Homo sapiens: one gene and its partners. The protein of the gene in region 2 interacts with the protein of the main gene of each other region in a pairwise test. Each region holds a gene or a part of one and is shown on either strand. Other genes may lie near its edges.

Evidence for each region. Proteins that work in one complex are often made in the same cells at the same time.
Region 1: the proteins of LGALS14 (region 2) and JRK interact in binary tests that used the Homo sapiens proteins (3 or more experiments, as listed by UniProt).
Region 3: the proteins of LGALS14 (region 2) and REL interact in binary tests that used the Homo sapiens proteins (3 or more experiments, as listed by UniProt).
Region 4: the proteins of LGALS14 (region 2) and POF1B interact in binary tests that used the Homo sapiens proteins (3 or more experiments, as listed by UniProt).

The regions. Positions count from the first base shown.
Region 1 is NC_000008.11:142,656,960-142,659,967, reverse strand, and holds the end of JRK (jerky protein homolog), read left to right. Parts: 3' UTR 1-1,023; coding exon of another isoform or gene 1,024-1,113; 3' UTR 1,114-2,508; downstream 2,509-3,008. UniProt on the Homo sapiens protein: May bind DNA.
Region 2 is NC_000019.10:39,703,011-39,707,280, forward strand, and holds the start of LGALS14 (placental protein 13-like), read left to right. Parts: upstream 1-1,470; 5' UTR 1,471-1,518; coding exon 1,519-1,533; intron 1,534-2,694; exon of another isoform or gene 2,695-2,897; coding exon of another isoform or gene 2,898-2,999; intron 3,000-3,586; coding exon 3,587-3,663; intron 3,664-4,167; coding exon 4,168-4,270.
Region 3 is NC_000002.12:60,912,574-60,916,073, forward strand, and holds part of REL (proto-oncogene c-Rel), read left to right. Parts: intron 1-3,500. UniProt on the Homo sapiens protein: Proto-oncogene that may play a role in differentiation and lymphopoiesis.
Region 4 is NC_000023.11:85,310,166-85,313,665, forward strand, and holds part of POF1B (protein POF1B), read right to left. Parts: intron 1-3,500. UniProt on the Homo sapiens protein: Plays a key role in the organization of epithelial monolayers by regulating the actin cytoskeleton. May be involved in ovary development.

The DNA.
Region 1 (3,008 bases), on a different chromosome or scaffold from region 2:
CTTCTACACATGGACCCTCAGACCTTGCACATCTGTTGTTTCCCTTGCAGGGCAGTGATGATGACATGAAATGAGGTGGGGTCACTCCTGTTTAGGGATGAGACTGGGGCCCAGGGAGGGGCAGGTGTGAAGTTGCTGAGGGCAGAGGGAGACCCAGGGCTACCTGCTCCTAATGACCAGCCTCACGTTCTCCACTGCTCACTCCCTGCTGTTCACCAGCTGCATGACCTTGAGCAGTGCACTCAACTGTAAACAGAGGTGAAAACACTCCTTTACCAACTGTTTTAGGGGCCACTCTTGTTTGAGGCCTTGAACCTCCTTTCAGTTCCGTGGTGGTCCTGAGCCTCTGAATCTGGGTATGGCCCCTGCTGGGTCCTGGTCTCTTAGGCAGCACGATGGCCTCCCTGCTCAAGGCCCTGCACCCAGGGGCAGATTGTGGGAGGCCCACTGGCCATGGCTGGGCCCTATCGCAGAGAGCCTGTCAGCACGGCCATTTCCACACCCAGGCTGGCTGGGAAGCAAGCTACGAGGTGCTCAAAGGCCCTCTATGTCTGCAGGTAGCCCCGTCCCACACAGGCGAGGATCGTTGGGCCTCCTTAGTAGCCAAAGGAACTGAGGTCCAGAGCAGGGAATGTGTTGCCCAGTGTCAGCATGGTCTGCTCTGGGGTCAGGCGTCTTGCCCTGGTCCTAAGCCACCCCAAGCCAAGGCATGTCCCTGGGCCCATTTCCTCTCTCGAGGTCTTGGGTTCCCTATTTCTGATGTGTGTGAAAGGAAGGCCTGTCCTCTGGGGTGACCATGAGGCTCAGTGGGAGGAGCTGCCAGGCTTGAGCTGGGACTTGGCACCTGGCCAGCCTTTTTTCTATTTCATTGTACCTTGATGGGCTGTCAGTTCTGAAGAGAAAAAATACACTAGGAATCCATTCTTCCTCCACCATTCTCCCTGGCAGAGGGAAGTGACTACACCCCTATGGTGTGGACATACTGACGCTCCTCCATGAAGCAGCAAAGTTCTGTTGTTTCAGGAGACTGTGGGCCTTGAGGATGTGGTAGTGACCTCACCAGAGGAGTTGGCAATTCCTAAGTGCTGCCTGGAGGCCTCTACAGAGACATAATGTTGGAGAACTTCTGCCACATGGCAGTGCTGGGTAAGACCCCTCTGTCCCCACCAGTGCCCTTGAGGTTATGGGTGTTGGTAGGTCTGTGGCCTCCATCTCCATGACGATGGTGTTAAGGACTGCATGTTTGTGTCCCCCCCCAAAGTTTATATGTTGAAACCCTGACCCCCAGGAGGGTGGTATTAGGAGGTGGGGCCTTTGGGAGGTGACTAGGCTTAGGTGAGATCGTGAGGGTGGGGCTCGCCGATGAGATCGAGTCCTTATAAGAAAAGGAAGGAACTAGAGCGAGGTCACTTTGTGCTGTGTGAGCATACAAGAAAACTGCCATCTTCAAGCTGGGTGCAGTGGCTCACGCCTGTAATCCCAGCACTGGAAGGCCAAGGCATTAGGATTGCATGAGTCCAGGAGTTCGAGACCAGCCTAGGCATGATAAGACCTTATTGCTAAAAAAAAAAAAAAAGGAAATAAAATAGAAAATTGCCATCTGCAAATGAGAAAGCCTTCAGCCGACACCAGACTGCCAGTGCCTTTGATATTGGACTTTCAGTCCCCAGATCTGTGAAAAATTAATTTATGTTGTTTAAGACACCTAGCCTGTGGTATTTTGTTATCGCAATCAAAACTGACTGAGACAGGCAGTAAGGAGAGAACAGAGGTTCCAGCCTGCTTCAGGTCCAGGCAGTTCTGCCATTGCCCCTAACTCCTCAGTGCCAGTCATGGGCCAGGCCCCTGGGGGACTTGGAATGAGTAAAACATGCACCTATTGTTAAGGTTCACCTGGTCCAGAAGGGGAGGCAGACCCACCTGCCCACCATGACCCGGACAGAGGCAATAAATACGGAGCACCTCATGGCCAGGGCCTGGAGGATTCCCACCATACCCTACCCAGCGCCAATAACAGAGGGACCCTGGAGTTGTGTACGCAAGATAGCAGTTCAGTGCTTGCACACATACTAGTTGAGAAGGGAAATCAGGGCTAATGAAACAGCTCAACTGTCTGGCAGAGCCAGGCTCCTTCTGCCATGATACAGTTTGGATGTTTGTCCCTTTCTAATCTTATATGGAAATTTGATCCCCAGTGTTGAAGGTGGGGCCTGGTGGGAAATGTTCCTGTTATCGGGATGGATCCTTCATGAATAGCCTGGTGCCATCTTTGTGGTAACAAGTGAGTTCTCACTTGATTAGTTTCTGTGAGAACTGTTTGTTAAAAAGAGCCTGGTGGCACCTCCCTCCCTTCTTCCTCCTGCTCTTGCTATGTGATGCTGCTGCCCTTTGCCTTCCGTCATGAGTGGAAGCTCCCTGAAGCCCCCACCAGAAGCAAATGCTGGCACCATGCTGCTTGTACAGCCTGCAGAACTGTGAGCCAAATAAACCTCTTTTCTTTATAAATTACTCAGCCTCAGGTGTTACTTTATAACCATGCAAACAGACCAAGACATGCCATGTGTATTTCATGAAGGGAGCCACAGGGTTGAAGATGTTACAGGACACCTGCTCTAATCCCCACCACTGTGTCTGCCTCCCCACCACTGTGTCTGCCTCCAGAAAGCACACCACTTCTGCTCCTGTCCCTCGAGCCAGGTCCCAGTCATATGAGTACAACTAGTTACAAGGGGTCTGGGTAGCATGATTGTAGAGGATGGGTGAGTGAGTATAGGACTCATCTAGCAGTGCAAGTCAGCCCAGGCCTTGTGCCTTCATGCCCTCTCCAGCAATTATGTCTGAGCTCCTCCAGTTTCTGTAAGGAGAGAGCAGAGTTTCCAGCCTGCTTCAGGTCCGTGAAGTTCTGTGTGCTGCGCGGATGTGGCAGTGACTTCACTAGAGGAGTTGGCAATTCCTAAGCCCTCCCCAGAGGCTTCCACAGAGACATAATGTTGGAGAACTTCTGCCTC
Region 2 (4,270 bases):
AATAAAAGCTCAATATCACTGAACATTAGAGAAATGCAAATCAAAACTACAATGAGATACCATCTCACACCAGTCAGAATGGCTCTTCTTAAAAAGTCAAAAAAGGACAGATGCTGGCAAGGGTGTGGAGAAAAAGGAGCACTTACAGATTATTGGCGGTGGTGTAAATTAGCTCACCCATTGTGGAAAGCAGTGTGGTGATTCCTCAAAGAGCTTATAACAGAACTACCATTAAACCCCGCAATCCCATTACTGGGAATGGTGTATACACTACTGTATACACAGAAGAATAGAAATTATTCTGCCTTAAAGACATATGCATATGAATGTTCATTGCAACACTGTGCACAATAGCAAAGACACAGAATGAACCCAAATGCCATCAAGGACAGATTGGATACAGATAATGTGATACATATACACAATGGAATACTATGAAGCCCTAAAAAAGAATGAGTTCATGTCTTTTGCAGGAACATGGATGGAGCTGGAGGCCATTATTTTTAGCAAACTAATGCAGGAACAGAAAACCAAATACTGCATGTTCTCACTTATAATTGTGAACTAAATGATGAGACTCATGGACACCAATAGGGGAACAACACACACAGAAGCCTACTTGAGGTTGGAGGGTGAAAGGTGAGATAGGAGCAGAGAAAATAACTATTGGGTACTACGCTTAGTACCCAGGTGAAGAAATCATATGTACCACAAACCTCATGACATGACTTTATCTGCATATGTACCCCTGAACCTATAATAAAAGTAAAAAAAAAGAAAAAAGAAAAAAAATCTCATCTTTCTCCCAGAATCTGCAGGAGAAACAATATCTCTGAAACTTTGTTTTACATGGACTCCAAGACAAAGCAGAGAATGCAGCTAGAGCCCAGGTATGTGACAGACAGATGAGAGTGACCCTCACCTGGCAGATCCAAGGGGCCTAGTGTGAGGCAGGTTCATGCAAGAACTATCTCTACTTCTCTTCCCAGATCCTCCTGAGGATCAAGGTCAAAAGGATCTGACCCTTAAAGGCCCTCCCAGAACCTTTAAAGGCAAAGAGAAGAATTACCTTCTAGGTCTAACGTCTTTTTCCAAAATTCCCAATTTTTTATTTTTAGTCATTGTACAAATTGAGGAAATGTACACCTTCTGGCTAGATTCTGCATACTGGAGAAAAAGCTTGAGAGGCACAAAGGCTGGGCTTTACAATCCCTACCCCTCACTCCATCATCCTTATCTATGCATTTCCCTGGTAACCCAATCCACAGCCTGGTACCTCCCCCACTGTCATTTCTGCTGCATTACAGACACAGACCTGCAAACATCTATGGTTGTGACAGAGTTTCTTTCTGACACCTGAGTCTTTCTCCTGCTGCACGGAAAGCTTGCTGGGAGGGGCTTGGAATCTGGCATGAAGCCAAAGGGCATCTCTGAGTTGCAGCATTTAAATGATCCCACTCAGAGATTCACACAGAAGACTGGACACAATTCCGAAGAGCTGCCCAGAAGGAGAGAACAATGTCATCACTACCCGTGAGTTGAAAAGTCACAGCCTTCAATAATCTCAAGTCACATAAACCAAGAAAGAAACAGGGGAGGTTTTCTGAGTTGAAAATATGAGCATTCCTACTGTGAATGCATTACCGAGAGTTGTGGGTGTGTAGAAGAGAAACCCTGAGGCTGTGGTATCTGAGATGATTGTGGGTGTAGGCTGTGGACCCTGGACCAGTGTAACCCTCTGTGAGGGTGTGGTGGTGTCTGATGAGAGTGAACTCTGCTGAGATTAAGTGACTTTAGGTGGGAGGTGGATGACCCACCAGGACCGGCAAGTGTGTGAGTGAGTGTAAGGGGGTGAGTGTGCTTTGTCTTCCTGTCTGTGATGTGAGTGTGTGTGGGCACAGCCAGACCAGTGCATGGTCATCTTTATGTGCACAGTGAGCAGGTGTGTGTAACTCAGTGAGTGGCATGGCTCTGTGTGACTATGGGTGTGTGTGCTGGGATGTGACTGGGTATTGAAGGGAAAACATGCACGTGGCCTTCTGTGCATGTGAAGGTTCCTCCCCACACAGCAGCACCTCTGATGAAGCACCTGTGTGTCTTTTCATGTGTGGCAATGTGGATCCCAAGTGGCTTAACTGGTGGGGATCTTGGGGATTGTGAGTTACCAAGGACTCGTTTCAGATCACTTATGAGAGCGAAATATATCATCAGTAGATATCTCTTCCCAGTAAGAGTGAGGAAAAGGAACGCAGATTATGGGAGAGATGGTTCCTCAGGTGGGGACTGCACAGAGTGATCACTGGCTTTTGCCTCCCAGGCTCAGCTTCCCTGTCGCTAGCCCAGCCTGTTCTTCCCATTGTGGAACAGGCGAGTGTGAAGATACTGATTTGCCAGGGAAGAATATTAGAGGCCGTGGTTAAAGAGACGGAATCAAACAAAATATCCACTGTAAGCTCTGTCTGAACTGAGACTAAACTTGTTCCTCCACTCATGAAAGAACAAGCTGTCTGAATTCAGACAGTGCTTACTGTGGACATTACTCAACAAAGCAGCTGGGTTCACTGGTTCATGACTATAATCCCACCAATTTGGGAGGCAAAGATGGGAGGGTAACTTGAGGCCAGAAATTTGAGACCGGTCTAGGCATCATAGTGATATGCTTTCTTTAAAAATCTTTAAATATCTGACTGGCAGAGTGGCAGACACCTTTCACCCCAGCTACACAAGAGGGGGCAGATGTGTGAGGATCACTGCAGTCCAGGAGTTCGATGTTTCAGTGAGCTGTGATTGCACCACTGCATATCAGCCTGGGTGACAGAGCAAGACCCTATCTCAAAAATACAGAAAAATCATCAACCACTTGCAGTCGTCGTAGAAATCAATCATTCCCTCCAGTTATGTCCCTGACCCACAGGCTTCATTTGTGCAAGTACTGGGGCTGTGCTGTCAGTAATGTGTGCCGCTTCTGGGAAGGACGTCCATTGCCCTTGATGATTGTGGTGCGTGTACATCCCACACACAGGGGTTTCCTGTTCTTTCGTCATTTCCCTTTCTCTTTCAACAAGTGTTGTTTCTCACTGGAGTGAATTTTTAAATTCTTTCACCCTCAAGTCTTGTTTTCATTTTCTGAGTTGAAAATAAGGCAGGTCAGTGTTTCAGGAGGACTCCCCTGTTCTGTTAGGTCACCCCTAATTGACCCTATACATGCCAGGGATTAGGGTAAAAGTTTTACCTATATTAACTCCTCTATTACTGAGAACACCCTACAAAGTAGGAATTCCTGATAGTCCTCCTTGTCCTGGGGAAACTGAGGCAGGGAGAGGTTAAGTAATAGATCTAAGATTGCACTGCTAGTATAAGGCAAAATGAGGACTGGAATCCAGGCATCCGGGCTCTTGAACAATTGCTCTTACCTATGGATCCACCATATCTTCAGGAATATGGGGCCCTGACTGTGGTAGGGTGAAAGGGGAGAGGCCTCAGAGTCTGACCTTTGATCTCTAACCTCCTGCACCATGGGAATCTGTTACATAGGGGAGGTTACACCTTACCCTTTAGCTCTCACTCACTCTCCATACCCTGGCAGGTACCATACACACTGCCTGTTTCCTTGCCTGTTGGTTCGTGCGTGATAATCACAGGGACACCGATCCTCACTTTTGTGTGAGTACTCCATGGTCCAATGGAGGGGGTGGAGGAGAGAAGGGAGAATATTTGCTAAGGGTTTAACCTTATGTGTGAGTGATGTGGAAAACTCTAGTTGGCATAATGAAGGCCTCATGCAAGTGCAGGCCCTGGAGACCTTCCAGCAACAGACATGAGACCTGTAGAAACTGCATGCAGGCCAGCCACGGAACCTAGGGGAGGAGAACACTCAGTGGGTTTGGGTTGTGGCTCTTTATTAAAGGGCATAGAATTTTCAGGAAATGAACAAGTCATAGGCCCATGTCACTGACTGGCGCTCAGTTTTTGTCTGGGGATGAGGAACACAGCATCTCCCTGCCTGGGGGCATGAGGAGCTAAAGCGTCCCCACAGGGACCAGGACTGCAGTATCATCGGGGAGACTTTTTGCCCTGGGTAAAGGGGGGAAGGGATTTGTGTGTGTGGCGAGTGTGTGTCTGCACAATGGGGGGACCTGCCCAACATGCTGTGTGCTTTGACCTCAGCAAGGACCCACAGCTGGAGGTGAATTTCTACACTGGGATGGATGAGGACTCAGATATTGCTTTCCAATTCCGACTGCACTTTGGTCATCCTGCAATCATGAAC
Region 3 (3,500 bases), on a different chromosome or scaffold from region 2:
GAAGTTGCAACAGTGCTCAGAAGTATTATAAAATAGAAATAAATCATTTCCAAAAGAGAGATTTCATTTTTGCCCAAAATCTTTCTTCTAAGCTATAAAAGACAAAACTGTTCAATACACAGTTTTGTCAATTTAAATCTACATATTCACCCAATTTTTATAAGATAAAATAAAAATGTATAATTATTGAAAAAAGAATTGAGAGCCCAGAAACAGAGCTAAGGAAATATGCGACTTTAGTGTATGACAGAGGTGGCATGTCATATCAAGAGGAAAGGAGGAAATGTTTGAGAAATGAAGCTTGAAAAAAAAATAGTTATTTAATTAAGTCGGATTCCCTACCTCACATCATATACAAATATCAGCTGAAGATGGATTAAAGGCTTTAAAAGTGAATCAACATTTTAAAAACTTTTGGTAGACTATGTTGGTAAACATTTTAATCCTTGAGGTATAAAAAGACAAGACACAAAGTGTTTTCTATAAAACTTTTGATAAATTTGATTATATTCTTAATTTCAATTTATTATATTTTTCAGTTCTAGAATTTGATTCCTTTTTTTCAGTTTCAAGTTCTCCAGTAAACTCTCAATCTTAATTCCTTGAATATATTAAGTATAGTTACTTTAAATTATATGTCTGAAAACTTCATTATTTGGATCCTTTGTGGTATGTTTTTATTGCCTGTTGCTTTCTTTTAAAAAAAAATTTTTTATTTTGCCTCCTCATATGTGTGGTTATTTAAGATAAAATACCAGTCATTTTCTGTGAAAAAGAGTAAAGATTTTAGGCCTACAATATTATCTCCCTGCAGAAAATTTTCTTCTGGCTAGTGGCCGGGTACACTAGCAATCCCAGGTCACCTAAAATCAGTGAATGATTTAGGTTATTTGAAGTTGGGCTTTCATCCCTGAAATCTGATATGTTTCCAGTTCACCCTTACTCCTAGGGTATAGCTCTTTCAGACCTCAAATCCCCCAAAGCCTTGGGTATTTATCAGATCCCACATCCTTGGCAAACTCTCAACTCCTTTATTTTTTCCCTATAGTTTATTGAGAGTTCATCTCAATCTTCTTAACCATCTCTTAGAAAATTGTCAGGCTATATTCAGATAAAAGTGGCCTCTCATTCTGAACTGTGGGTTTTCTTCTCTCATATCTTGGTCGCATGGTTTTTCATGACCTTGTTAGCTCTCTAATGTCATTAGAGAAATTTTGTTTCATATTTTGTCCACTTTATTCTCATGGTTGAATTGGTCCAGTTTACAGATTATCATCTATCATTACCAAAGTAGAACTTCTTTTTATTAACGTTTACTTTATGCTTTCTTCAGTAACTTGTAAAAGTATCTAAATGTTTGGTTGTTCAATAGGACTTTAAGTAATTCTTCAGTCATTTATGTTAATTGAGAAAATGTATAATAAATATCACTACTAGGTTCAACACCTAGTGGAGATACATCAGACATCCCTTCTGACTTCATTTGAAACTTTGTCTAATAGGATAGAAGAGGCATACATAAATGATTATCATGTAAGATTTTAAAACTTTTAAGGGCATAAGAAAGGTATAGGTCAAGTCTTGCACTGATTTAGAGAGGAGAAATATTCCCTCCATTGCAGAGGATGAAGTTAGGCTTTATAGAAAAGAAGCTTTGAGCTGGGGTTTCAGCCTTACACTGAATCTTGCATTGGGTAAAAACGGGTATCTGTCATGATTCTTGCCTGTCAGTAGTTTTTAACCATGTTGTGCAGAGATGAAAGTAATTCTGATGCAGTAGTAATTGTATTTCCACACATTGAGAAGATTCAAAGCAAAATCTCATAAACAGTGATTTTTTTTGAGAAGTAAGTAGAATTTCTTCCCTGTAGTAGAACTATTATGTGACTAAATGTTTTTGAACTTTGGCTTATTGACCAGTTTGTTTATTTTTCTTTTATGTGCCATTTAAAAATATTTAAAATAAACTTTTATTGAGATACAATAAAATCTACCCGAATATGTCCTGCTACATAACCACAATCAAGCTATGGAACATTTCCATCACCCCCTAAAATTTCCCTGGTCCCCTTCTCGCTCAGTTCCCTACCCTGCCTCTGCCTCAGGCAATTACTAATCTGCCTTCTGTCACTGGAGATTAATCTTTTCTAAAACTGCATGTAAATGGAAGCATACAGTATACTTTTGTATCTGGTTTCTTTTGCTCAACATGGTTTTGAGATACATTCATTTGGGAGTGTATACCCATAGCTTGTTTTTTTGTTTTTTTTTTTTTTTTGAGATGGAGTCTTGCTCTGTCGCCCAGGCTGGAGTGCAGTGGCACAATTTCGGCTCACTGCAAGCTCTGCCTCTCGGGTTCACCATTCTCCTGCCTCAGCCTCCCAAGTAGCTGGGATTATAGGCGCCCGCCACCACGCCTGGCTAATTTTTTGTATTTTTAGTAGAGGCGGGGTTTCACCGTGTTAGCCAGGATGGTCTCGATCTCCCAACCTCATGATCCACCCACCTCGGCCTCCCAAAGTGCTGGGATTACAGGTGTGAGCCACCACGCCTGGCCAGTTTGTTCTCTTTTATTGCTGAGTTTATTCCATTGTAGGTCTATACCACACTTTGTTTATCCATTCACAGAGTTCACATAGGTTTGTTTTTAAACTTACCAGGAACATCTAGCTACAAATTTATCTTTTTTGCATATTGATTACTCATCTTTGCAATTGAGAGACACTAATATCTTGAATGCTACATTTATAATGCTGTAAAAATGGATTTTGAAGAGGTAGCTCTCATATTGCCTACACAATAGTGCCAGTAGAGTATGCTGCTGTAACACAAGTGTTGGTATCATAACATTTTGACCTTTCAGTTGTACAGAGTACAGATGTGTTTTTATGCACTGTTTCAAAGATTAAGCATAAGAATGCTAATACTGGGATACTTATAAATGTTGTGATAGCTAAGTAGACTCTCAATGTCATTAAATAAAAACAGTACAAAATACATTATCAGTTTTATTAGTTATTGCCTGTAAAATAAGGAATTTGGGCTTAACTATGTTTCTAAATTTAGTGTTTCAAAATTTAATACTTTGCAAAGTAAAATTGTTATGTAAATAATGTGCATGTCTTGCTTTTTAAAAATATGACTTATTGCTATAGCTTATGGCATTTGAAAAGGCAATATTTTCTTTTGGAACTGGATTTCTGGTTCAAATACTAATTTAACAAACTATTATACTATATTCTATCATGAGCTTTTCTAGTTTTATAGAACTGTAAAATTTTTAATTAAAACATTTTTTAAGTTTGCACGTAAAATTTCTTATGGAAACTAGCTATCTTAACATTTTTTTGTTTCTTGGTATTTCATCCTTAAAATGTTGATCCACATTTAGTAGATACTCTTGTGTATGTCATTTTTATGTACAACACATGTACAATTTTCTAATAGATTTCAATTTTTAAAAGCATAGGCTCTAAATTTAATGACTTGAGTTCACATTT
Region 4 (3,500 bases), on a different chromosome or scaffold from region 2:
CATAATTCCAAGAACAACAAAAATCTCAACCAATAAGAAAAAACACTTAATTGATGACAACATCAAGATAATAGAAATGTTAGAATTATCTGATAAAGTGTATAAAACAACCATCATAAATACTTCAACAAGAAGTTGCAAGGAGACTGTAAAAACACATTGTCTCAATGACAAAATAGAAAGTCTCAGCAAATAAATAGAAGACATAAAGAATACCTAAATGGAAATTTTAGAACTGAAAAGGACAGTAACAAGACAAAGAAACAAAAACCAAACCAAAACAACAAAGCTCTCAAGGAGTGGGCTAAAAAGCAGAATGGAGAGAACAGAGGAAAGAATTAATGAACTTAAAGATAGAATAAAATAAAGTATATAATCTGAATATCAGAAACAAATAGATTAGAAAAAATTAAACAGAGCTTAAGGGTTTGTGGGTGTACACCACATATCTAGCTTTCATGTTCAGAGTCCTGGAAGGAAAGGAGAAAGAGGATGGAGCTGAAAAAATATTCAAAAAAATTATGGCTGAGAAGTTTCCCAAATTAGTAAAACCTGGTAACATACATATTCAAGAAGCTGAGCATATCCCAAACAATATAAACCCAAAGAAATCCATTACCAGACAAATCAGAGTCAAACTTCTTAAAACTAAAGACAAACTAAAAATTTTCAAAGCAGCAAGAAAAACATTAATTATTGGGAATAACAATTCAAATGACAACAGATTTCTCATTACAAATCATGAAGCCCAGAAGGAACTAGGATACTATTTTTTAAGTACTAAAAGAAAATAATTGTCAACTGTAAATTCTATATGCAGTGAAATTATCCTTTAGGAATGGAGGGAAATTCACATTTTCAGATGAGGGAAAATGAAAATAATTTGTTACTAGCAGACCTACCCTTAAAGAATAGCTAAAAGAAGTTGTCTAAAGAGAAGAAAATCATAAAAGAAAGAATTTGGAATATTAAGAAGGAAGATATAGCATTGTAAGCAAAAATATGGTAAATACAATAAGTTTTCCTTCTTTTCTAGAGTTTTCTTTTTTTATTATACTTTAAGTTCTGGGATACATGTGCAGAACGTGCAGGTTTGTTACATAGGTATACACGTGCCATGGTGGTTTCCTGCACCCATCAACCTGTCATCTATCTACATTAGGTATTTCTCCTAATGCTATCCCTCCCCTAGCCCCCCACCCCCTGACAGGCCCCAGTGTGTGATGTTCCCATGTGTTCTCACTGTTCAACTCCCACTTATGAGTGAGAACATGAGGTGTGTGGTTTTCTGTTTCTGTGTCAGTTTGCTGCGAATGATGGTTTCCAGCTTCATCCATGTCCCTGCAAAGGACATGAACTCATCCTTTTTAATGGCTGCATAGTATTCCATGGTGCGTATGTCCCACATTATCTAGTCTATCATTGATGGGCAATTTGGGTTGGTTCCAAGTCTTTGCTATTGTGAATAGTGCTGCAATAAACATATGTGTGCATGTGTATTTATAGTAGAATGATTTATAATCTTTGGGTATATACCCAGTAATGGGATTGCTGAGTCAAATGGTATTTCTAGTTCTAGATCCTTGAGGAAGCGCCACACTGGTTGAACTAATTTACACTCCCACCAATAATCTAAAAGCGTTCCTATTTCTCCACATCCACTCCAGCATCTGTTTTTTCCTGACTTTTTGATGATCGCCATTCTAACTCACGTGAGATGGTATCTCATTGTGGTTTTGATTTGCATTTCTCTAATGACCAGTGATGATGAGCATTTTTTCATGTTTGTTGGCTGCATTAATGTCTTATTTTGAGAAATGTCTGTTCATACCCTTTGGCCACTTTTTGATGGGGTTGTTTGTTTGATTCTTGTAAATTTGTTTAAATTCTTTGTAGATTCTGGGTATTAGCCCTTTGTCAGATGGATAGATTGCAAACATTTTCTCCCATTCTGTAGGGTGCCTGTTCACTCTGATAATAGTTTCTTTTGCTGTGCAGAAGCTCTTTAGTTTAATTAGATCCCATTTGTCAATTTTTGCTTTTGTTGCTATTGCTTTTGGTGTTTTAGTCATGAAGTCTTCCCCATGCCTATGTCCTGAATGGTATTGCCTAGGTTTTCTTCTAGAGTTTTTATGGTTTTAGGTCTTACCTTTAAGTCTTTAATCCATCTTGAGTTAATTTTTGTATAAAGTGTAAGGAAGGGGTCCAGTTTCAGTTTTCAGCATATGGCTAGCCAGTTTTCCCAGCATTATTTATTAAACAGGGAATCTTTTCCCCATTGCTTGTTTTTGTAAGGTTTGTCAAAGATCCAATAGTTGTAAATGTGTGGCATTATTTCTGAGGCCTCTGTTCTGTTCCATTGGTCTATCTCTCTGTTTTGGTACCGGTACCATGCTGTTTTTGTTACTGAAGCCTTGTAGTATAGTTTGAAGTCAGGTAGCATGATGCCTCCAGCTTTGTTCTTTTGGCTTAGGATTGTCTTGGATATATGGGCTCTTTTTTTGGTTCCATATGTAATTTAAAGTATTTTTTCTAATTCTGTGAAGAAAGTCAATGGTAGCTTGATGGGGTTAGCACTGAATCTATAAATTATTTTCAGCTGTATGGCCATTTTCAAGATATCGATTCTTCCTATCCATAACAATGGAATGTTTTTCCATTTGTTTGTGTCCTCTCTTATTTCCTTGAACAGTGGTTTGTAGCTCTCCTTGAAGAAGTCCTTCACATCCCTTATAAGTTATATTCCTAGGTATTTTATTCTCTTTGTAGCAATTGTGAATGTGAGTTCACTCAAGATTTGGCCCTCTGTTTGTCTATTATTGATGTATAGGAATGTTTGTGACTTTTGCACATTGATTTTGTATCTTGAGACTTTGCTGAAGTTGCTTATCAGCTTAAGGAGATTTTGGGTTGAGACGATGGGGTTTTCTAAATATACAATCATGTCGTCTGCAAACAGAGACAATTTGACTTCCTCTCTTGCTATTTGAATCCCCTTTATTTCTTTCACTTGCCTTGTTGCCCTGGCCAGAACTTCCAATACTATGTTGAATAGGAGTAGTGAGAGAGGGCATCCTTGTCTTGTGCCGGTTTTCAAAGACAATGCTTCCAGCTTTTGTCCATTCAGTATGATATTGGCTGTTGGTTTGTCGTAAATAGCTCTTATTATTTTGAGATACATCCCATCAATACCTAGTTTATTGAGAGTTTTTAGCATGAAGCGGTGTTGAATTTTATCAAAGGCCTTTTCTGCCTTTATTGAGATAGTCATGTGGTTTTTGTCATTGATTCTGTTTATGTAATGGATTATGTTTATTGATTTGCATATGTTGAATCAGCCTTGCATTCCAGCGATGAAGCTGACTTGATCATGGTGGATAAGCTTTTTGATATGCTGCTGGATTCAGTTTGCTGTATTTTATTGAGGATTTTTGCATCGACGTTCATCAGGGATATTGGCCTGAAATTTTCCTTTTTTGTTCTGTCTCTGCCAGATTTTG